3 separate regions of the Homo sapiens genome follow, and all the other regions are linked to region 3. Evidence: fine-mapped expression QTL. A gene starts in region 3. Each other region holds a variant in brackets. All regions are shown on one strand. Distances are between the middles of the regions. Region 1 overlaps NVL (nuclear VCP like). Region 2 holds the start of MIR320B2 (microRNA 320b-2). Region 3 holds the start of NVL (nuclear VCP like).

The links. PIP is the estimated chance that this variant, and not a neighbour inherited with it, causes the effect. A credible set is the group of variants that fine-mapping cannot tell apart.
Region 1: its variant is the best candidate, but not a certain one, in a credible set for the expression of NVL in B cells (Schmiedel 2018, PIP 0.74).
Region 2: its variant is the best candidate, but not a certain one, in a credible set for the expression of NVL in transverse colon (GTEx, PIP 0.73).

Annotation. Positions count from the first base shown.
Region 1 is chr1:224,234,430-224,242,618 of GRCh38, forward strand. NVL (nuclear VCP like) reads right to left here. Exons shown (of 23, transcript NM_002533.4): 20 at 2,077-2,153. Among named protein-coding and RNA genes, the nearest start is that of MIR320B2, 19 kb to the right of the region's middle. The variant TTCAAAAAAA/T (reference allele first, on the strand shown) is at 3,530.
Region 2 is chr1:224,252,841-224,261,010 of GRCh38, forward strand. The region is part of intron 18 of NVL (nuclear VCP like); the gene reads right to left. It overlaps MIR320B2 (microRNA 320b-2), which reads right to left and starts at 4,270; the gene lies at 4,200-4,270. RefSeq lists an enhancer at 1,870-2,795 and a silencer at 3,907-4,201. The variant T/C (reference allele first, on the strand shown) is at 3,234.
Region 3 is chr1:224,326,210-224,334,398 of GRCh38, forward strand. NVL (nuclear VCP like) reads right to left here and starts at 3,963. Exons shown (of 23, transcript NM_002533.4): 1 at 3,862-3,963; 2 at 182-255. The coding sequence starts at 3,918. RefSeq lists enhancers at 3,531-3,670, 3,721-3,770, 3,961-4,010, 4,031-4,180, 7,838-8,132.

The DNA of each region.
Region 1 (8,189 bases), 92 kb before region 3:
TAATGTTGATAATCCCCATACTATATAACTTTTTTTTTTTTGAGATGGAGTCTTGCTCTGTCACCGAGGCTGGAGTGCAGTGGTGTGATCTTGGCTCACCGCAACCTCTGCGTCCTGGGTATGAGTGATTCTCCTGCCTCAGACACATACTATATAAAAGTAAAGACCCACAGAGCTTAAATTTTTAACTGAATCTGGTGTTTTGTTGGCTAAATGTTAGGGTTATAACATTATTTAATAATCACATACCTGCTGGGGTATTCATTCCTTCCCATACTATGAAATCTAACATTGGTGGAAACACCATTAACTAACACAAGCAGATAGCTATAGACTGTAGTGGTGTAGTGTCTCTCAAACTGTAATTATAGTGGCATGAAAATCCAAAATGTACACCATTCAACTTTAGCCCTAACCCCTTCACAGACTGATAGCCTACTTGGTATATCCAAAAGATTTAGCCCAGGGCAAGTTCCGCCACCAAAATCACCTGTTACTCACCGAAAATCTTTTCAGATTTGAGCACTTAAAGCTGTATTATTATTATTTTTTTTGTAGAGATGGGGTCTTACTATGTTGCCCAAGCTGGTCTTGAACTCCTGGCCTCAAACAATCTGCCTGCCTTGGCCTCCCAAAGGGCTAGGATTACAGGTGTGAGCCACTGCTCCCACCCTTAAAGCAGTAAACTACTCAAGTAGTAGTCTCCTAAGCATAAGGCCATTTCTTTATTTTTAATTTTATTTATTTTTATTTTTTGAGATGGAGTGTCGCTCTGTTGCCCAGCCTGGAGTGCAGTGACACGATCTCAGCTCACTGCAACCTCCACCCGCTGGGTTCAAGCAATTTTCCTGTCTCAGCCTCCCTAGTAGCTGCGATTACAGGTGTGCACTACCATGCCCGGCTAATTTTTGTAGTTTTAGTAGAGACAAGGTTTCACCATGTTGGCCAGGTTGGTCTCAAATTTCTGACCTCAAGTGATCTGCCCACCTCAGCCTCCAAAGTGCTGGGATTACAGGCGTGAGCCACTGTGCCTGGCCACATCATTTAAATAAAGACTCGTATGGATTTGATTCCTAATTAGGGGGTGAGGCACATCCTATTTAAGGGGAGGTAGAGGCATTTACATCTGCCCCTCACCACCCCTGCCTGAGACTCTGATCAGTTTCTCTTCACTGAGAATCACTGCTACATTGGAAGGACATAATAGAGAAAAAAAAAGGGCCGGGTGTGGTGGCTCACTGTAATCCCAGCACTTTGGGATGCTGAGGCATGAGGGACTACTTAAGCTCAGGAGTTCATGACAAGACTGGGCAATATGGCGAGACCCTAAAACTACAAAAATTTTTTAAAAAAATTAGCTGGGGATGGTAGCATGCACCTGTAGTCCCAGCTATCCAGGAGGCTGAGGTCAGAGGATTGCTTGAGCCCAGGAAGTCAAGGCTACAGTGAGCCATGATCATGCCACTGTACTCCAGCCTGGGTGAAAGAGGGAAACCCTGTATGGAAAAAAAAAAAAGAAAAAAAAGAAAACAAAAAGCCGGAGGGGGCATTGTCTCTGTTAGTTAAACTTGAGTTTCATTTCCTCCCTCTGTGTCCCCAAATTGGGAAAGTTAACAAACAAATTTACTTCAAAACATATGAAGAAAAACTAATAACTGTAACAACACAAACATAGGAAGGATGAAGGCAGAAATGTCAGATTTCCTGATGTTACTACAGGCTATGTGGAGGTGAAAATGCATCCTGAGGGCTGCAAAATGTGGCACTTGTAGATTAGTCTCTTTTAAATGCTGACGCACCAGTACAATTTGTAAAGGACAGCAGTGCTGGTTAGGGTAGGTTAAGTACCAAGAGTCAACATATGAAAGGACTCCCCTGTTCCCAGGAATTCCTTCAGGGCCTCCAAATGTGCAGTCTCTTCTCTAAGAAGGGAGATGCCAGACACTTTATGTGCTTCATGGGATACCTCATTTAATCCTCCCAACAATCTGCTGAGGTGAGCATCATCACCCCTCATTTTATAGATGAGGAAATTGAACCCCAGAGAGTGAATTGACTTAAGATTTAAACACTTACGTATAGCAATCACAGCGAAGGTCACCAGCAATTGCTTCCAAATTTACATCTGCATCCAGTGGTGGTTTGGTACCATTCTAAGTAAGAGAGAAAAATGATTTTTCATTGGAGCTTTAAAGACCATGCCGGGTGCGATGGCTCATGCTTGTAATCCCAGCACTTTGGGAGGCCAAGGTGGGCAGATCACCTGAGGTCAGGAGTTCGAGACCAACCTGTGGAACATGGTAAAACCCCATCTCTACTACAAATACAAAAATTAGCTGGGCGTTATGGTATGCACCTGTAGTCCCAGCTACTCGGGAGGCTGAGGCACGAGAATTGCTCAAGCCCTGGAGGTGGAGGTTGTAGTGAGCAGAGATCATGCCACTGCACTCCAGCCTGGGCGACAGAGTGAGACTGAGTCTCAAAGATAAAGACCATATTCATCTACATAATAGGTTCTTAATAATGGCTGTTTGACTAAATGAGTATAACTGACTTCCAGACTGGTGCTGTTAAGGTTTATACAAATTTCAATGTTGAGAAATGAGGCTAAGAAGCAGATTCCAAACTTGAGAAAGCTAAAGGCAAACAATTTATGCTCATGAAGTTTGAGGAATTTGTGTACAGCTGCAGCAAATACTAAACACCATCAACAAGAATGAAAACTAGCACCTCGATCTTTCCAAAGGTGAAGAAACACATTTCCTTTCCAGCTTAAACATGGCAAATACTTAAGCAATGCTTAGTGTTGGTGTGAGGCTGGCTAGGACGGAAGAAATAATACTGAACCTGGCCAGGAGAGAAGGAGCAGTATCTGCTCTAAAATAAAAGCACAAAGCACTCTAAGCTCAGTATATTCTTTCTTAATCATTTAGCTAACACTCAATCTTGATTTTGGTGCCAATTCCCCTTCAGCTCATTTCAAGACACATTAGCAATGACAAGTATGTAACTTAGAACTCTTAGAATTTCTCATGAGACTGGATGTAGAGGAAAAAAAACCAACCCAGAATTTTAACACTTAACCCAGTAACTTGCATGCATACATTATGTTTAATAATATTTTTAGTGACAAACTGCAGAGGCAAACAAAACAAGCTTTTTCTTCCCTCCAGGGTATTGCTCTGTCGCCCAGGCAGGAGTGAGTGGAACAACCACAACAGACTTGACCTCCTCGGCACAAGAGATCCTTCTACCTCAGCCTCCCGAGGAGCTGGAACTACATGCCACCATGCCTGGCTACTTTTTTTTTTTTTTGAGACAGTCTCGCTCTGGAGTGCAGTGGTGCGATCTTGGCTCACTGCAACCTCTGTCTCCTAGGAGCGATGGGGTGGCGTGTGCCTGTAATCCCAGCTACTCGGGACACTGAGGCAGGAGAATCACTGGAACCCGGGAGGTGGAGGCTGTAGTAAGCCATGATCGCACCATTGCACTCCAGCCTGGGTGACAGTTGGAGAGTTGGAGACTTGGT[TTCAAAAAAA/T]AAAAAAAAAAAAAAAAAGAAGAAACACACACAAAAGTGAATAAACACAAGCCATTAAGCTTTTCTCTTTTCTTTTTTTTTCTTTGAGACAGGGTCTGGCTCTGTCATCCAGGCTTAGTGCAATGGCGCAATCTCAGCTTACTGCAACCTCCACCTCCCGGGCTCAAGCCATCCTCCCACCTCAGCCTCTTGGGTAGCTGGGACTATAGGCACCCACCACACACCTGGCTAATTTTTGTATTTTTTGTAGAGATGGGGTTTCACGATGTTGCCCAGGCTGATCTCAAACTCCTCAGCTCAAGCGATCTGCCCGCCTTGGCCACCCGAAGTGCTGAGATTACAGGTGAGGGCCACAGCACCTGCCCAGTAAGCTTTTCTTAGTGTAAAACGTCAGCCTGGCAAAGTGCTCCAGGCACAGGGTTCGGCGACCTGGCTGAGAGGACTGGAGCTGCCGGCCTTGTGCACTAGTTACCTGTTGCTCTGCCCACACTCACATACCAGCGTCTCACTGCCTCCCAGCAGGGCATGTTCAAGAACTGCATAAATTATACATCTGTTAGTTGCTATCACTAAATAAAATGGACATGTTATCTACCACAGGTTCAAGAAACAGTTAATTTCCCATTCAATCCATTTTGACCTGGGACACAAACTATGATCTTAGGCAAACAATCTTGTGCTTTTTTCTCTAAGTAATAAAACTAAAGGGTCAGAATGTAGGATTGCTAAGCATCTTTTAGTGTAAACAATTTTCAACCGAGTCAGGATAGTGGTCAATCCTGGGGGCAGGTAGAAGTGGGTAGTGGCTGGAAGTAGAAGGGCAGCTTTTGTCGGTGTGGGAATGTTCTATTTTATTGTGGCAAAACATACAAAAAACTGACCATTTCAACCATTTTTCTGTGTACAGGTCAGTGGCATTAAGTCCATCCACATTGTTGTATCACCCCTATCCGGCTCCAGAACTCTTTTATCTTCCCAAAGAAAACAATGCATCCATTAAACACTAACTCCCCATTCTTCCTGCCCCCGCCTCCCAACCTCTGGCAGTCACCATTGTACTTCATAGTTCTATGAATTAGACTTGGAGTGTTCTCTTTCTTGATCTGGAGACTTTGTAACAATTCATGGAGCTGGACATTTACCACTTTTTAATTTCTTTCTTGAATCTCTAAATCTACTTTACATTTACCACTTTTCTGTAGGTGTATCATACTTCAATAAAAAGACCTAAACAGTGCAAGTAACACTGGGCGAGGAATTAGAAAACCTGAGTTCTAAAGTTCAAATTTGCAACTGAATGGCCCTTATAGAACTTTGTTAATCTTTATTATTTAATTTTTTAAAGTATCTTAATAGATAAGTATCTTATTTCCAGATGAGTATATATAATTTTGTGCTATATTTGAGAGGGGAGGGGGGCATCAGTGAACATATAATAGTGATTTCTTAAAATGAAGACTAGCGTAGACTTTCTTGCTATGGTGGTGGGGCTGCCACATTATGTAGGAGCCCTTGTTAGGTGCTTTCTATGATTTTAAGAACCTATCAACTTACCTCGACTGTCACACTGTCACATTAACTGTACGGATCTTCCCTAAGGACACTCCGCGTGCTGTTAGACAATCTAATCTCAAACTATCCAGTGCCCTGTTTTAATCAAAAGCTGAATCATAAGAAGACAATTCTTTTATACTTCTCAATATCTAAATTCTACCCTTGGGTTAAGCTGGACCTCCACAAGGTCCTGTGCATCCTCAGAGTGCATTTCTTGGACCTTCATCAAATTGTATTTAATGAACTGGCTTTGTGTAATACCCTCAGTTTATATTAAGAAAATGACAAGCCTCAGTCCCAAGAGGCTTATTGTGTTTGTGTCAGAAATACCGTTAAAGACATTGTGCATCGCATCTTAGTGTTCTCTTTGTGAGGACCCAGAGGAGGAATTTTTCTTTTTTCTGTCTCGCTGTGTCACCAGGCTGGAGTGCAGTGACGCAATCTCGGCTCACTGCAACTTACGCCTCCCAGGTTCAAGCGATTCTCCTGCCTCAGCCCCGAGTAGCTGGGATTACAGGCATGCGCTACCACGCTGGGTAATTTTTTTTTTTTTTTTTTTTTTGAGACGGAGTCTCACTGTCACAGGCCCAGGCTGGAGTGCAGTGGTGCGATCTCAGCTCACTGCAACCTCCGCCCCTCAGGTTCAAGCGATTCTCCTGCCTCAGCCCCCCAAGTAGCTGGGATTACAGTTGCCCGCCACCACGCCTGGCTAATTTTTTGTATTTTTAGTAGAGATGGGGTTTCACCATGTTGTCCAGGCTGGTCTTGAACTTCTGACCTCAGGTGATCCACCCACCTTGGCCTCCCAAAGTGCTAGGATTACAGGCGTGAGCCACCGTGCCCAGCCAACGCTGGGTAGTTTTTGTATTTTAGTAGAGACGGGGTTTCACCATGTTGGTCAGGCTGGTCTCAAACTCCTGACCTTGTGATCTGCCCGCCTCCGCCTCCCAAAGTGCTGGGATTACAGGCGTGAGCCACAGCGCCCAGCAGAGGAGGAATTTTCCTCACATTTGCATAATGGGAGCAATTGTCAGCTTCCTATTCTTAGCATATCCTTTGTTTAAGAAAAATCTTTTGTGAAAGAAAGCTCAGTATATAAAGGAACACAATAAATAAATGAGGTGGGGTATGAACTTCACAAAACGAATTCACTGTTATATGTTTAGATACTCTCAGAAGTTTCCTAATTCTTAGAAGATTAAACCTTTAGAAAAAGAAATAATTTCAAGTACCCTCACTTGAAAGAAAGTAACAAACTGTCCTTTTTTTTTTTTTTTTTTTTTTTTTGAGACAGAGTCTCGCCCTGTGGCCCAGGCTGGAGTGTGATGGCATGATCTCGGCTCACTGCAAGCTCCGCCTCCCGGGTTCAAGAGATTCTCCTGCCTCAGCTTCCCAAGTAGCTGGGATTACAGATGTACACCACCATACCCGGCTAATTTTTTGTATGTTTAGTAGAGATGGGTTTCACCATGTTGGCCAGGCTGGTCTCAAACTCCTGACCTGGTGATCCACCCACCTTGGCCTCCCAAAGTGCTGGGATTACAGGCACAAGCTACCACGCTCAGCCAAACTCTCCTTTTTTTGAGGGCATGAGGTGTGCTCTACCTAGGATACCTCCAAAAGTTTCATTAGCAACATTACTTTCTAATTAGTAGAAATAAGGGCTAAGGAATCTTTGGATCACTGAAATCTAACTATTCTTTAATTGAAATGTGGTTATGTTTCTGACTTATAGTAAGAACTAAAATGAATTCTATTTATTCTCAAGTGAGAGCAAAGAGAAAAATTTTAAATGGCATAATAAAGAGCTTATAAAACAAAATATGAGGATTTTGGAAAATCATTTATTGAAATGGTACTAGGATATTTAGAAGTATTTAGAAGCTTAAATTAATTTGGTTTTTCTTTATGACATTATCTCTATTACGATAATATTATATTATTTTTTAATAAAGGCCCTAATGGAAATCTCAAATAGGTTGGTAACTATAGAAAGCTAAGCTAAAGGAATTATTAGAAAAAGAAGGAAAATAGTCTCTTAAGGAAATTATAGGCCAGGCGTGGTGGCTCATGCCTGTAATCTCAGCACTTTGGGAGGCCGAGGCGGGTGGATCACCTGAGGTCAGGAGTTTGAGACTAGCCTGGCCAATATGGTGAAACACCATCTCTACTAAAAATACAAAACTTAGCCAGGTGTGGTGGCAGTTGCCTGTAATCCCAGCTACTTGGGACACTGAGGCAGGAGAATCGCTTGAACCCGGGAAGAGGAGGTTGCAGTGAGCTGAGATCAAACCACTGCACTCCAGCCTAGGGAACAAGAGTGAGACCTCGTCTCAAAAAAAAAAAAATAAAAAGAAAAAGAAAAACAGGTGTGGTGGCAGGCACCTGTAATCCCAGCTACTTAGGAGGCTCAGGCAGGAGAATCACTTGAACCTGGGAGGCAGAGGTTGCAGTGAGCCAAGACCACGCCATTGCACTCTAGCCTGGACATCAAGACCAAAACTCCGTCTCAAAAAAAAAAAAAGTTATATCCCACAAATATTGTATGATTCTACTTGTATGAGGTACCTAGAATAGGCAAAGCATAGAGACAGAAAGTAGAATGGTGGTTGCCAGGGGTAGGGAAGAAGGAATGGGCAGTTTGTGTTTAATGGGGACAGAGTTTCAGTTTGGGAAGATGCAAAAGTTCTGGAGATGAGTAGTGGTGATGGTTGCACAACAATGTGAATGTACTTAATGCCACAGAAATATATACTTAAAAATGGCTAAAATGGTAAATTTTATGTTATGTATCTATAGTATTTTACTAAAATCTGAAAAAAGTTATGGCTCATTTACACTGATATTTTCCTATAATTCGTATTAAACATTATATGTTATGAAATACTCAGGTTCAAAAAGTAATTCAAGATGTGCTACTACTTTTATTTTAACAAATATTTTCATTTGGTCATACAAATCTATTCTTTTTTTTTTTTTTTTTTGAGACGGAGTCTCACTCTATGCCCAGGCTGTGCAGTGGCGTGATCTCACTTCACTAGGTTCAAGCGATTCTCCTGCCTCAGCCTTCCGAGTAGCTGGGACTACAGGTGCACGC
Region 2 (8,170 bases), 73 kb before region 3:
CCTTTCTCTCCTGCCCTTACCTGCTCTCCTTTATCCTTAGGCAGCCACCTATCTGTTTTGGCACTATAGATTAGTTTGCATTTTCTAAAGTTTTATGTAAGTGGAATTATACAATATGTACTGTGCTTTCTTTCATGCAACATAATCATTTTGGGTTTCACCCAAGTTGTTTCATGTGTCAGTAATTTTCTTGTACAAGTCTTTGTATATGCTTTTTTTTTTAATGACAGAGTCTCACTCTGTCACCCAGGCTAGAGTGCAGTGGGGCGATCTCGGCTCATTGCAACCTCTGCCTCCTGGGTTCAAGCAGTTCTCTGCATCAGCCTCCCAAGTAGCTGAGATTACAAGTGTGCCCCCCTGCCCCCCACGCCCGGCTAAGTTTTCTATTTTTAGTAGAGACAGGGTTTCACCATCTTGGCCAGGCTGGTCTTGAGCTCCTGACCTCATGATCCACCCGCCTTAGCCTCCCGAAGTGCTGGGATTACAGGCCTGAGCCACGGCTCCCAGGCTGTATATGCTTTCATTTCTCTTCAGTAAATTACCTAAGTGTAAGATACCAGTAGTATGGCCATATCAAACTGTAGGTATATGCTTAACTTTTAAGAAATTGCTGGCCGGGTGGAGTGGCTCACGCCTGTAATCCCAGCACTTTGGGAGGCTGAGGCGGGAGGATCACAAGGTCAAGAGATTGAGACCATCCTGGCCAACATGGTGAAACCCCGTCTCTACTAAAAATACAAAAATTAGCTAGGCGTGGTGGCACATGCCTGTAATCTCAGCTATTCAGGAGGCTGAGGCAGGAGAATCACTTGAACTCAGGAGGCGGAGGTTGCAGTGAGCCGAGATCAGGCCACTGCACTCCAGCCTTGGGACAGAGCAAGGCTCGGTCTCAAAAAAAAAAAAAAAAAGAAAAGAAAAAAAGAAATTGCCAAACTGTTTTCCAAACTACTTGTACCATTACATTCCCATCATCAGTGCATGAAAGTTCCAGTTCCTCCATATCCTTGCCAACATTTGGCACAGCCAGTCTTTTCAATCTTTTAGTTATTCTAAGGTTTGTAGTGCTTACTGTGGCTTTAATTTGCATTTCCCTAGTGACTAATGGTGTGAAGCATTTTTCATGAGTTTGCCATTTGTACACCTCCTATGGTGAAGTAACTGTACAAATCTTTTGGCCATTTTTATGTTTAAAGTTGATTAAATAATTTTGTAAACTGACAAAGAAAAATGGTATATATTTAGGTTGTACAACATGTTTTTTTTTGTTTTGAGATGGAGTCTCACTCTGTCGCCCAGGCTGGAGTGCAGTGGCATGATCTCAGCTCACTGCAACCTCTGCCTCCCGGGTTCAAGTTCATTCTCCTGCCTCAGCCTCCTGAGCAGCTGGGATTACAGGTGACCACCACCATGCCCGGCTAACTTTTGTATTTTTAGTAGAGACGGGGTTTCACCATATTGGTCAGGCTGGTCTCGAACTCCTGACCTCGTGATCCACCTGCCTTGGCCTCCCAAAGTGCTAGGATTACAGGCATGAGCCACAGTGCCTGGCATTTTTTTTTTTTTTTTTTTGAGATGGAGTTTTGCTCTTGTTGCCCAGGCTGGAGTGCAATGGCGCAATCTCAGCTCACCGCAACCTCTACCTCCTGGATTCAAGTGATTCTCCTGCGTCAGCCTCCCAAGTAGCTGGGATTACAGGCATGCACCACCATGCCCGGCTAATTTGTTTTTTTTGTTTTTTTTTTTTTTGTATTTTTAGTAGAAACAGGGTTTCTCCATGTTGGTCAGGCTGGTCTCGAACTCCCAACCTCAGGTGATCTGCTCATCTCGGCCTCCCAAAGTGGTGGGATTACAGGCGTGAGCCACTGTGCCTGGCCAACATGTGTTTTTAAAATGTGTATACATTGTGGAATGGCCAAGTTGAGACAACTGACACAGGCATTACCTCATATTCTTATTACTTTTTTTGTGGTAGATCACTTAAAATCTACTTTCTTGGCAATTTTCAAGTACCTTTTGGCTACTTTTAAAATGGTGTAGTTTTTTTTTTTTTTTTTTGAGACGGAGTCTCTGTCGCCAGGCTGGAGTACAGTGGCATGACCTTGGCTCACTGAAACCTCAACTCCCAGGTTCAAGCGATTCTCCTGCCTCAGCCTCCCAAGTAGCTGGGATTCCAGGCATGCACCACCACACTCAGCTACTTTTTGTATTTTTGGTAGAGACGGGATTTCACCATGTTGGCTAGGATGGTCTCGATCTCCTGACCTCATGATCCGTCTGCCTCGGTTCCCAAAGTGCTGGGATTACAGGCATGAGCCAATGTGCCTGGCCCAAAATGGTGTAGGTTTTTTTTTTTTTTTTTTTTTTCCTGAGACAGGGTCTCGCTCTGCCGTCCAGGCTGGAATGCAGTGGTGCGATCTTGGCTCACGGCAAGCTCCACCTCCCTGGTTCTCGCCATTCTCCTGCCTCAGCCTCCAGAGTAGCTGGGACTTACAGGTGCCCACCACCATGCTCAGCTAATTTCTTTTGTATTTTTAGTAGAGACGGAGTTTCACCATGTTAGCCAGGTTGGTCTCGATCTCCTGACCTTGTGATCCGCCCACCTGGGCCTCCCAAAGTGCTGGGATTACAGGCGTGAGCCACCGCGCCTGGCCTAAAATGGTGTAGTTTTTAATCCTTTATCAGATATATGCTTTGCAAATATTTTCTCCTAGTCTGTGGTTTATCTTTATATTCTCTTATTTGCATTTTTGTAAGAGACTGGGTCTCACTACACTGCCCAGGCTGGCCTCGAAGTGCTGAGCTCAAAGGATCCTCCCACCTCAGTCTCCTGAGTAGCTGGGTTTACAGGCGTGTACCACTGTACCTGGCTTATTGGCACTTTTGAAGAGCAGTTCAGTTTATCTATTTGCTCTTTTATGGTTTACGCTTTTAATATCATATAGGAAATCTTTGCTTAATTCAAGGTAGAAAAAAATTTCTCCAGTGTTTTCTTCCAAGAGTTTTATAATGTTGTTTTCAATGGTCTTTGATTCATTTTGAGTTATTTTTTGTATGTGGTAAAAGGTATGAATTAAGGTTCAATTTTTCTTTTTGCATATGGATATTCAGTTGCTCCAGTACCATTGTTGAAAAGACTATACATTCTCCACTGCATTGCCTTTGTGCTTTTTAAATACATCAACTATCTAGATATGCATAGGAATATTTCTGGATTTTTTTTCTGTTCCTTTTAT[T/C]TATCTGTCTCAGCTCTATGCCAATTACCATGCCGTTGAAACATCTTTTAATTTAAACATATAAATACATGCCAGGCATGGTGGCTCATGCCTGTAATCCCAGCACTTTGGGAGGCTGAGGCGGGTGGATCACTTGAGGTCAGGAGTTCGAGACCAGCTTGGCCAACATGGTGAAACTCCATAACTACTGAAAATAAAAAAATTAGCTGAGCATGGTGTTGCATGCCTGCAATCCCAGCTACTCGGGAGGCTAAGGCAGGAGAATCGCTTGAACCTGGGAAGCGGAGGTTGCAGTGAGCCAAGATCGTGCTACTGCACTCCAGCCTGGGCAACAGGGTGAGGCTCCATCTAAAAAAAAAAAAAAAAAAAAAAAACCCACAGAAAACTCCCCACAAAACACATCTTAAAGCCAGTTCTACATGCCCCAAGGTAAAGGGGAATACTGATGATAATTATAAAGCATTCTTAGTTTGGGAGTCCTATAATCACTTAACATCTCTGACAAATATCACACTTAATATTATGCAGTTTATTATTTTAATAAGTTATTTACAGTAAAAGGCATTCTGGACACTTTATATAAATTTTAGTATTAGATGACTTAAACTACACTTCACTAAAGGCTCCTGCAAGATTCTATGTATTACATCATTAGAAATGAGATGCTAATCTCTTCCTAGCTCTTCCCTAAACAGGCCCCTACCATTGTCTTTCCCGTCTTAGTTAATGTGAACTCATTCTCCCGGTTTTTCAGGCCCAGACCTTGGAGCCATGCTTGATTCCACTTTCCCACATCCTTAACTACTCCATTAGCAAATCAGGTCAACCCTATGACACAATATATTCAGATTCCTTCTACATCCACAGCTATCACCCGGCTCAAACCACCACCACCTTGCACCTGCATTATTCTTACAGCTTCCCAACTGGTTCCCTATCTAATTATGTCAGAGACAGAATTCTTTTTTTTTCCTTTTGCCCTCTCAACCCAGCTTTTCCCAACTTTGGGAAATCTGGGAAGAGAAAGCCTAAGAGACAGAATTCTTAGGTAGAAGACAAAAAATAACAATTCTGATATTTACAATAAAAATGGCACTAACAATCCCAGCACTTTAAAGAGAAAGTGCATTCACTCACAAATGAGATGGTTGCCTGAAAAAGAACCCTCCTTTCATCTGTTGATAAGCAGCACCTACTGTTCTTTATAAAGCACCTACCTCCCCTCAAAAAAGCTATTACAGCTTGCCATGGGTAAAAAACATTAATTAAAAAAGAAAAAAAAAGTTAAAATTGAGAGGTAACAGTAGCAACTTTTAACTTTAGGAAAACATTATTTTGTTATAAATGGACCCTCAATTTTTAACAAAGGTAACAAGACAATTCAATGGGGGACTAATTAATCTTTGCAACAAAGGTGCTAGGACAAGTGGTTTTTTGTTTGTCTGTTTGTTTGTTTGTTTGTTTCTTTTTTTGGAGACAGGGTCTCACTCTGTAGCGCAGGCTGGAGTGCAGTGGTGTATCATAGCTCACTGCAGCCTTGATCTCCGGGACTCAAGCAATCCTCCCGCCATAGCCTCCCAAGTAGCTAAGACTACAGGCATGCACCACCATGCCCATTTAATTTTGTTTTGTTTTTGTGTATTTTTTGTAGAGATGAGGTCTCACTATGTTGCCCAGGCTGGTCTTGAACTCCTGAGCTCAAACAATCCTCCCATGTTGGCCTCCCAAAGTGCTGGGATTACAGGCATGAGTCACTGCACTGGGCCCGACAAGGGATATTGACACTCAAAAGAATCAATTTGCACACTTTCCTCACAACACGCAACAAATTAACTCAAAATGGATCAAAGACCTAAATGTAAGAGCTAAAATTTTATGAGAAGAAAATGCAGGAGTTAATTTTAGTGACCTTCGGTTAGGCAATGATTTTTACACCATTGATAACACCATCAAAATTGCAAGCGGTAAAAGACAAACACATAAATTGGAATTTATCAAAATTAAAAACTTGTGTTTCAAATGACATCAAAAAAGTGAATAGACAACCCACAGATTGGTGAAAACATATGTAGATCACATATCTGATTTTAGATTTGTATCTAGAACAAAGAACTCTTACTACTCAATGACAAGGCAAATAACCTAATTGAAAAATGACCAGACATATCTCCAAAGAAGACATACAAATGACCAACAAGCACAATAAAAGATGCTCAACACTATCAGTTATCAGGGAAATGCAAATCAAATCAGAATGAAATACCACCTCACATCCACTAGAATAACTATAATAAAAAAAGACAATAACAGGTATTAGTAAGAATGTGAATAAATCAGAACTGTCATATATTTTAATGTCAAAATTACTAGTGGGAATATAAAAATGATGCAGCCACTTTGGAAAAGAGTTTAGCAGTTTCTCAAAATGTTAAACAGGGAGTTACCATATGATCCAGCAATTCCACTCCTAGGTATAGACCCAGGAGAAATTAAAACATATGTCCATACAAAAATGCATACATGAATGTTCATAGCAGCATTATTCATAATAGCCAAAAAACAGAAACAGCCCAGATGTCCAACTGGTGAATACACAAAATGTGGTATATCCATACAACGGGATATTATTTCATAATAAAAAGGAATGGAGTATTGATACATTCTATAATATGAATAAATCTTGAAAACATTATGCTAAAGAAGCCAGATTTAAGAGCCCTCATATTGTATAATGCTATTTACATAAAATATCCAGAATAGACAAATTTATATAGACAGAAAGTAGATGATGGCCAGTAGCGACACATGCCTAAAACCTCAGTACTTTGAGAGGCCAAGGCAGGGGGCATGCTGCAGGCCAGGAGTGCGAGACCAACCTGGTTAACATGAGACCCTGTCTCTACATTAAAAAAAAAAAAAAAAAAAAAAAAGGAAAGTAGATTAGTGGTTGCCTAAGGCTGGAGATGAGAAAAGGAAAACTGAATGCTAACAGGCATGAGATTTTTTAAGGGTGATGAACATTTTTTTTTTTTTGAGATAGGGTCTCACTCTGTTGCCCAAGCTGGAGTGTAGTGGCACAATCTCGGCTCACTGCAACCTCTGCCTTCTAGGTTCAAGCGATTCTCCTGCCTCAGCCTCCTAAGTAGCTGGGACTCTAGGTGCGCACCACCATGCCCTGCTAAATTTTGTATGTTTTTGGTAGAGACGAGGCTTCACTGTGTTGGCCAGGCTGGTCTCAAACTCCTGGCCTCAAGTGGTCCACTCGCCTCAGCCTCCCAAAGTGCTGGGATTACAGGCATGAGCCACACATGGCCCAGGTGATGCAAATATTCTAAGATTAGATTGTTGGGATGGCTGTAAAGCTATGTAAATATACTCAAAACCATTGAATGATATACTTAAAATGGGTAAATTTTACGATATGCCACTTACATCTCAGTAAAGCTTTTTAAAAAAATGAATCCTCAGACTAGCAACACTATAAATATATCCATTGAAAATAATTACAAGATCAGACAACCTTCATGAAATAGGTTTCTACTCATGATTCATTAAACAAATAATAATAATAAGAATGATGTTTTTTGTTTGTTTGTTTTGAGACAGAGTCTCCTTCTGTTGCCCAAGCTGGAGTGCAGTGGCACAATCTCCGCTCATTACAACTTTCACTTTCCAGGTTCAAGCAATTCTTGTGCCTCAGCCTCCCAAGTAGCTGGGATTACAGGTGTGTGCCACCATACCCAGCTAACTTTTTTTTTTTTTTTTTGTATTTTTAGTAGAGACGAGATTTTTGCCACGTTAACCCAGGTTGGTCTCAAACTCCTGGCCTCAAGTGATCTGCTCACCTCAGCCTCCCAAAGCGCTGGGATTACAGGCATGAGCCATCGCATCCAGCCGTAAACAAATAATTATTGAGCTCTACTACATATCATAGCATCTATAACTCAGCCAAAGTTCTGGCTGGGCATAACCTAATTTTAAAAGGGCAGTACTGTGCCAAAGGGCAAAACATACAGGGTTGACCATGGCACCAAGTCATTGTTCAATTACCTTCAAATGCATTCAACAATGACCCAAAGCATCCAGACTAGATGTGTAAGGAAACACTCTATTTAGCTTGGAACTTCAGTGGTAAATATCTTAGTACAATGAAATAAATACCTTCTCTGTGAGTCATCCACTCTTTCATCTGATAATTACTATTATTTTTTGAGACGGAGTCTTGCTCTGTCACCAGGCTGAAGTGCAGTGGCGCGATCACTACAACCTCCACCTCCCGAGTTCCAGCGATTCTCCTGCCTCAGTCTCCTGAGTAGCTGGGACTACAGGCACGCGCCACCATGGCCAGCTAATTTTTGTATTTTCAGTAGAGACGGGTTTCACCATGTTGGCCAGGATAGTCTCGATCTCCTAACCTCGTGATGTGTCTGCCTCAGCCTTCCAAAGTGCTGGGATTACAGGCATGAGCCAACACACCCAGCCTTCATCTGATAATTATTAAACGCTTAGAATGGGCAGAGCCTCTAACTAGAACCTATCTCTCAGATATAAAAGTGCAGAATGAATCCCTGCCCTGCAGAAGCTTGCACATCTAATCATAATTTGCTTATTTATTTCTTCTTTTCCTTTTTTTTTTTTTTTTTTTTGAGACAGGGTCTTGCTCTGTCATCCAGGCTGGAGTGCAGTGGTGCAATCATAGCTCACTGTGGCCTCAAACTTCTAGTTTCAAGTGATCCTCCTGCCTCAGCTTCCCAAGTAGCTGGGATTACAGGTACACACCAGTGCATCTGGCTAATTTTTATTTTTATTTTATATTTTTTGAGACAGAGTCTTGCTCTGTCACCCAGGCTGGAGTGCAGTGGCGTGATCTCGGCTCACTGCAACCTCTGCCTCCTGAGTTCAAGCGATTCTTCTGCCTCAGCCTCCCGAGTAGCTGG
Region 3 (8,189 bases):
TTACTGCACATAATAGGTATTTGATAAATGTTTGCATAACTGAATTGAGTTCCAAGATTATGGATTGGTGAACTAATGCCAGCAGCTACTGATATCAACTGGAAATTTAGGCAGGATATAAACTTTTAAAATGGTAAAGGAGACATAAAAATCCAAGGATCCGGAAACTATATTTATTTACCTGTACACTCTTTGTAAATCAGACGCTAAGACTCCAATGTCCACATATTTGCCACATTTGTTACTGGTAAGGTACTAAAACAGAAAATATAACAAATACAAAACACCCAATATTTCAAACTCAGTGATTTTAATCAACAGATTGAGCTATCTGAACACATTATACTTTAAGATAAACTCTTCGTTAATAAAGTGTACCAGAAACATAAATAAAAGTAACCAAATAATTGTCAAATATGAAATCAGAAAATTTAATTAACATTATTAATCACTATAATACAATACTAATAATTATCAGAATAGTTATAAGGCAGTAAGTGAGGGCTTACTTACTAATATCCTAGGTTTCCAAACACCCCAGAACACTGCAGTAAACTCATAAGGGTAGGAGGGGATATTTTAAACTTCAAGGAACACAGTGATATTTGACATCTGTCAGATACTGCAGAACTACTAGCTTGAGGCAATTTAGTTTCAATATTAAATCACCTTTTGGCTGGGCATGGTGGCTCATATCTGTAATCCCAACACTTTGGGAGCCCAGGAGTTTGAGACCACCCTGGGCAACAAAGTTTGACCTCATCTCTACAAAAAAATTAAAAAGTTGGTTGGATGTGGTGGCTTGTGCTTATACTCCCAGCATTTTGGGAGGCCAAGGTGGGAGATCGCTTAAGCCCAGACTTAGAGGTTGCAGTGAGCTATGATCGAGCCACTGCACTCCAGCCTGGATAACAGAACGAGACCTTATCTCAAAAATAAATACATAAATAAGCCCGGGCGTGGTGGCTCACACCCGTAATCCCAGCACTTTGAGAGGCCAAGGCGGGAGGATTGCTTCAGTCCAGGTGTTCGAGACCAGCCTGGGCAAGGTGGTAAGATCTCATCTCTACAAAAAATTTTAAAATTAGCCAGACATGGTGGTGCATACCTGTGGTCCCAGCTACATGGGAGGCTGAGGTGGGAGAATCACTTGACCCCACGAGTTTGAGATGGCAGTGAGCAGTGTTCACACCACTGCACTCCAGCCTGGGTGACAGAGCTAGACCCAGTCTCAAAAATAAAAAATTAAAATTAAATTAAATATATAGCTAAGTGAAAATTTATTTAAAATATTGTGTAAGACTATCTTCAGGCTATGTGTGTAAGGTGTATATGAAACATAAATAAACTTCATGTTTAACTTGGGTCCCATCCCCAAATATCTCATTATGTATATGCAAACATTCCAAAACCTGAAAAAAATCAATCTGAAACATTTTTTGGTCTTAAGCATTTAGAATAAGGGATATTCATTTGTACTTTTATAATGAACCAAAGTGAAAGCTATAGAGGAAAACTGATAATGTCAAACGCTGAAAAGAGTCAAGTGTGAGGACAGAGAAGAGGCCACTAGATCCAGTAATTAGGAGTCACTGCTCAGAAACCTCAATAAAGTGAAGGAGCAAGTTGTGGGACGCGGGAACATCCAGAGGAAGAGTAATTCAGAGTGACTGAACAACGAGAACAAAGGTCCTGTGCTTGGCATGTTTGAGAAGGTCTGTGTGGCTGGGACAGGAGAGGAAAAGTAAACTAGGACAACAGAGGCCAGAATATGCAGGGCTTTTCAGACTGGGTTTTACTCTAGATGTCTGTGACTCCACTGAAAGGTTTTGAGCAGGGCTATGGCAAGCTCTGATTTCCCCCCCCTTTTTTTTAGTTATACTTTAAGTTCTGGGATACATGTGCAGAACATGCGGGTTTGTTACATAGGTATACAGGTGCCATGGTGGTTTCCTGCACCCATCAACCCGTCATCTACATTAGGTATTTTTCCTAATGCTATCCCTCCCCTAGCCCGATTTTTCCCTTTAAAAGGATGTCTTGGCCACGCCTGTAATCCCAGCACTTTGGGAGGCTGAGGCGGGCAGATCACCTGAGGTCAGGAGTTCGAGACTAGCCTGGCCAACATGGTGAAATCCCATCCCTACTAAAAATACAAAAAGTAGCCAGGCGTGATGGCATGCACTTGTAATCCCACGTACTCGGGAGGCTGAGGCAGGAGAATCACTTGAACCCAGGAGGCAGAGGTTGCAGTGAGCAGAAAAAAAAAAAAAAATTAGATGTCTCTGGCTGCTCTGTGGGGAATAGGCTTTAGGTAAAAGCAGAATCAGAGAGATCAGTTAGGAGGCTATTGTAATAGTATAAGGTAGAGATGATGGTTTGGACTAAGATGGTTACAGGGAAAGACAGTAAGAAGTACTTGGAATATATTTTGAAAGTAAAGCCAACCAGGCTGTTGACAGATGGTATACAGGAAATGAAAGACTCAGAATGATCCTTAAGGTTTTTGGCCTTAACAACAGGACGAACGGTAGTATCATTTACTGAGATACAGAACACTAAGAAAGGGCAGATTTGAAGGAAGAAAAAAATCACAAATTCCACTTGGCCATTTTAATTTGGAGATATGCTGACTAGGCAGCTGGATATATCAATCTGTACTTCAAGATAAAATCTGGACTGGAGATATAAAGTTAGCAGTCATAAATATACAGAGGCCAGTGCAGCAGCTTGCACCGGTAATCCCAGCACTTTGGGAGGCTGAGGCCCGATCGCTTGAGCCCAGGAGTTAGAGACCAGCCAGAGTAACATAGTGGAACCCCGTCTCTACAAATAATAATAATAATAATAAATTAGCCAGGTGTGGTGGTGCACACCTGTAGTCCCAGCTACTGGGGAGGCTGAGGAGGGAGGATCACTTGAGTCAGGGAGGCCGAGGGTGCAGTGAGTTATGATTGTGCCCATAAACAGCCACTGCACTCTAGCCTGGGCAACAGAGCGAGACTATGTCTCAGAAAAATAAAAATAAAATGAAATAAATACATAGATAATAGAGTATGTAGATACTACTCAAAGGTTATTACACTAAATGAGATCACATAGGAAGTATGGATAGATAAGAAAGGTGTATGAGGAAAGAGGAGGAAGGGGAGGTAAGAGAACAGTGGCACAGAGCACTTCCAACATTTACAAGTTGGTAGGAAAAGATGGGTCCGAAAAGGAGATTGTTTAGGGGCTGGTGAAGTGAAAGAAAAACAAGGAGAATGTGTAGCTCACAAATTCCTAAGTGAAGAAAATTCTCTCCCACCTTTTAACTCAGACTGCTTGCTTACATTCTGAGGTATTTGCCACACACTGCTTTTTACTGATGGTCATGAAAATGAGAAAACCGTAGGCAAAGTGCCTGTTACTGTTGCCAGACCCATGTTATCTCGTTTTAGTGTGTAAGTTCCTTGAGAACGGAAATTAACATATTATTTATGCCACCCCTTCTCAAGGACCTCTTACAATGCGAGCGTTTGAAGACCATTCCTGTGCTAACTTCACAAGCCAAAGAGGTTAAAATTCAAAGGCTACCTCCACTCTACTGAATGATCTGCGCTGAAGACGACCAGACAACTTGGGCAGCCCTACCAAGCTGCACCCTCCCACCATCCCCGGCTTCTCCCTGAGACTCCGCACCAACGTGGGTAGGGAAGGCCCCGGCAGCACCAACTAAGGAGAAACAGACGCACGCCCAGACCCAGACTGGGGAAAGAAGACTAGTTGAGTTCCACCTGGATGCCACCCGACAAAAGGGGAGTGGCACCCTGGGGCAGCGATCGGGGCCCTTGGCGAGGCCAAGCGGTGCAGAATACACACCTGGATGACTCGCTGCTTGAGTTTATTATCCACGAACCCTGCAGGTCTGGGCTTCATCGCGTCGGTCTTCCAAGCCACAGCTCGGACCGCCAGCTCCTAGTCAACCGGGGGCCTCGTAGGGGTTGCCCGCCGCGATCGCCGGGCCAGTTGCACCTGAAATGCGCCCCTCCTGGGGCCTAGCCCGCGCCGTTTCCGTCAGAATAAAAGTAATGCGAATGAAGGGGAAAAAATTCCGAGGAGAGGGAGAAGACTTGAAAACCTCAGGGAGTTTCTAGGGGCCTTATTTTGCAGGCCTGCCCAGTGGACCCTGGAAGATTAGGACCCCTTTGAACGCGCTCAACTTTATTGGTTCCCCGCCGGGCGAACCAGGTGGGAGGAAGTTCCTACCCCGGCGCGGTGTGCGGAGACGCTGTCAACGGCGTCCTCTGGAAAACTTGGTTTGCTTTCCTCAGGCGTTCCAGCCACACCTCATTCTGATACAAAGCTAGTCTTCGCAAAACCAGCCACGGTAGATACTTGGAGTGATAAAATCAGGGTAAAAACACACCACCAGCCGCTGCTTGCTTTCCCACGTAGTTATCTTACATTTTAGAGGCCCGACAAAAGGGCTAGGTGAAAAAGAAAAGGAAGGACGGATTTATCCAGATAACTAAGTCATTTGTTACTTTTAGAACTCGTTTGACTTACGCTGTTATCATCGGCAGGTAATTTGTTGAATATATCCAGTGCAGGACTCCTTGGCCCAGAATTTTATCAAACGTTTGTATTTGCCCCAAGAAGTTTATCCTGCACTTAGGGAGACACAAAGGGACAGTTACCAAGCATTAAAAAAAAAATGCTGGCTTTAGTTTCTGTCTTCTTGTTTATTTCAACCGTGTTTTGAGTATTCTTATTTCAGGTCCTCCTTGGCTTATGACAAGGTTAAGTGCAGTGTATTAAGGGGCAGAGGGGAGAGAAAATGGAATTAAGAGAAGGGCGTGAGGCCGGGCACGGTGGCTCACACCTGTAATCCCAGCACTTTGGGAGGCCGAGGCGGGCAGATCACTTGAGGTCAGGAGTTCACGACCAGCCTGGCCAACATGGTGAAACCTTGTCTCTACTAAAAATATAAAAATTAGCACTGAATTAAGTATTAGATTTCCCACTCAAAATATTGATCCGTTTGGTTGCAACTTCATTTCCTACTTCTTCACTATGTGTAGTTTTATTTTTTATTTTTTTAGTTGTAAAATATAAGAACATTCACCATCTTAAACATTTTAAAGTGTGCAGTTTAGTGATAATACATTCATAATATGCAACCATCACTGCCATCTAGTTCCAGAACTCTTTTCATCTTGTACAACTAAAACTCTATACTAATTAAAAAATAACTCCCCATTCCTCCCTCCCCCCAGCCCCTGGCAACTACCATTCTACTTACTGTCTTTATGATTTTGACTACACTAACTTCCTCATATAAGTGGAATCTTCCAGTATTTGACTTTTGTGACTGGCTTGTTTCTTAGCTTAATGCCCTCATATAGCATGTGTTAGAATTTCCTTCTTTCTTTTCTTTTTTTTTTTTTTTTTTTTTTGATACAGAGTCTTGCTCTGTTGCCCAGGCTGGAGTGCAGTGGCGCAATCTCAGCTCACTGCAACCTTCGCCTCCTGGGTTCAAGAGATTCTACCACCTCAGCCTCCCAAGTAGTTGGGACTACAGGTGTGTACCACCACACCCGGCTAATTTTTTGTATTTTTAGTAGAAATGGCGTTTTGCCATGTTGGCCAGGCTGATCTCCAACTCCTGACCTGAGGTGATCCACCTGCCTTGGCCTCCCAAAGTGCTGGGATTACAGGTATAAGCCACCGCACCTGGCCTTTCCTTCACTTTTAAGGCTGAATAAAATTTGGCTCTTTTGTTGCCATTCTGCCTTTTGCCATGGGATGACACAGCAAGAAGGCCCTCACCAAATAACAACTCCTTGATATTGGACTTTCCAGCCTTCTTGCATTCATTCAACAAGTGTTTATTGAGTGCCTACCAGTTTCAGTCTCTGCTCTGCGCTTTAGGCTTGTGGGGAAAAGTGGAAGAATTATAACTAACTTTTTATAACATTTAAAAAATTTGATTAGGTATTTATGTGCTTGATTAAATGTTAGCAAAGATTCCCTACAGCATATAGTACAAATGTAGTCAATGCTCAGTAATTTTTAAAATGAAATGTAATTCTGTGCATGCCAAATGTCCAACATAGAATGAAAACACACTGAGGCCAGGCATGGTGGCTCATGCCTATACTACCAGCACTTTGGGAGGCAGAGGCAGGTGGATCACCTGAGGTCAGGAGTTCAAGACTAGCCTGACCAATGTGGTGAAACCCTGTCTCTATTAAAAATACAAAATTATCCGGGTGTGGTGGCCCATGCCTGTAATCCTAGCTACTTGGGAGGCTGAGGCAGGAGAATCACTTGAACCTGGGAGGCAGAGGTTGCAGTGAGCTGAGATTGCGCCATTGCACTCTAGCCTGGGCAACAAGAGCAAAACTCCATCTCAAAAAAACGAACAAATAAACAACCACATTGAAAGGCCTAGTAGTATCATGACATGTACTAGGCAATATAGTTTATTAGTCTATAATTTGTCATAGAATACTATCCTACACTTAGGGTTGACTTCATGGGTATGTGACCTCTGCAGTCACACAGGGCCCTGTGCTCAGAAGGGCCCCACAGGTGGTTTAATGCTGTACTGTTGCCATCTTGAAATGCTTTCTGAATAAGCTGTCCCTTATTTTCATTTTGCACTGGGTCTTACAAATTATGTAACCAGCCATTCATATGTAAACTTGAAGTACTCTAGAATGCTGCCTTCTTCTTCTTTTTCTTCTTTTTTTTTTTAGGTGGAGTCTCACTATATTGCCAGGCTAGAGTGCAGTGGTACGATCTTGGCTCACTGTAACCTCCGCCTCCCGGGTTCAAGCGATTCTTCTGCCTCAGCCTCCCAAGTAGCTGGGACTCCAGGTGCATGCCACCATGCCCAGCTAATTTTTGTATTTTTAGTAGAGACAGGGTTTCACCATATTGGCCAGGCTCGTCTTGAACTCCTGACCTCGTGATTCGCCTGTCTCGGCCTCTCAAAGTGCTGGGATTACAGGCATGAGCCACTGCACCCAGCCACCTCCTTCTTAAAGGCAGGGAATGTGTTGTTCATCTCACTACTGCTTCAGGTGCAGAAGGCAATAATTGAAAGTGAATTAATACTAGATGATAATATGCTTGAACATTTCTCGTTGGAATTATTTCATCAATTATTGCCCTGAAGACCATTTTACATTGATTCCAATGTTTGGATTTACAATATCATGCATCAAAACCAAAAAGATTACTGAACAGTAACCTAAGTGCATATACACTTTAAGCACTTCCTTTTTTAATTGAAGCATCCTCCATTCTTTGGTGGTGTAACCCCACCTAGTGGTAGTGGCGTATTTTATCTTTTGTCTTTCACACTTTCTCCTAAACCTCATACAGTATTTCACAAGCAAACAGCTTCTGGTCTAATTGTGCTTCATAACTAGGGTGATTTATGTCCAGATTTGCTCAGGACAGTCCTGATTTTTGATTCAGCAAAATTATTGCTAGTATCCCCTTTGTGGAAATACATGAAGACCAAATACATAAGAAGAGGTGAAGACTATTTGTTCAGAGTTTGCTATAACAAGGGAGTCAGCCACCATCACTTGTGTTTTGGCAGAGCCTCAAAGACAGGCAGAGGAGTGGGAAAACTTTATGGTGGGGAATAGGGGAAGGCTTCAGGTACGCCCTAACTGAAGACTGTTGTCATAGGGAAGCTATAGGTGGGCTAAATAGAACTAGCAGAGCATCCTATGTGTTTGGTTGGGATGCACAGTTGGTTTTCTTTTTGGTCCTATGTTGACAGCAGGTCCAAAAATTAGAAAAGCTATCATTTATTAATAAAGTTTTTGCCATCTGGGGCCGTTTGTTACAGGGGTTGTTGCTGGGTTCCTGGATTGTTTGCTAGTGATAGTGATCTAACTTCCTACATGTCTGACTTGTAGATGATATATTGGTTTTCTGGTCTGGTTGCTGCAGATTGTGAGTCAGAGTTCTATTTTTGCATTTGGTCTGGCCATTTTTCATTCACATGTTCAGTGTCTTCCTTTTATCTCTCAAAAAGGTTCTAGTTTGGACAATGTATGACCACTCTATGTATAGTAGGAACATGGAGAAAAAGATGAAGTTTGCATGTCAGAGGATCCTTACTGAGATGCAAAAATGAGGCTTCCTGCTTGCTGGGAGCTGGAGACTGAGTTCTGTTCTGTTAT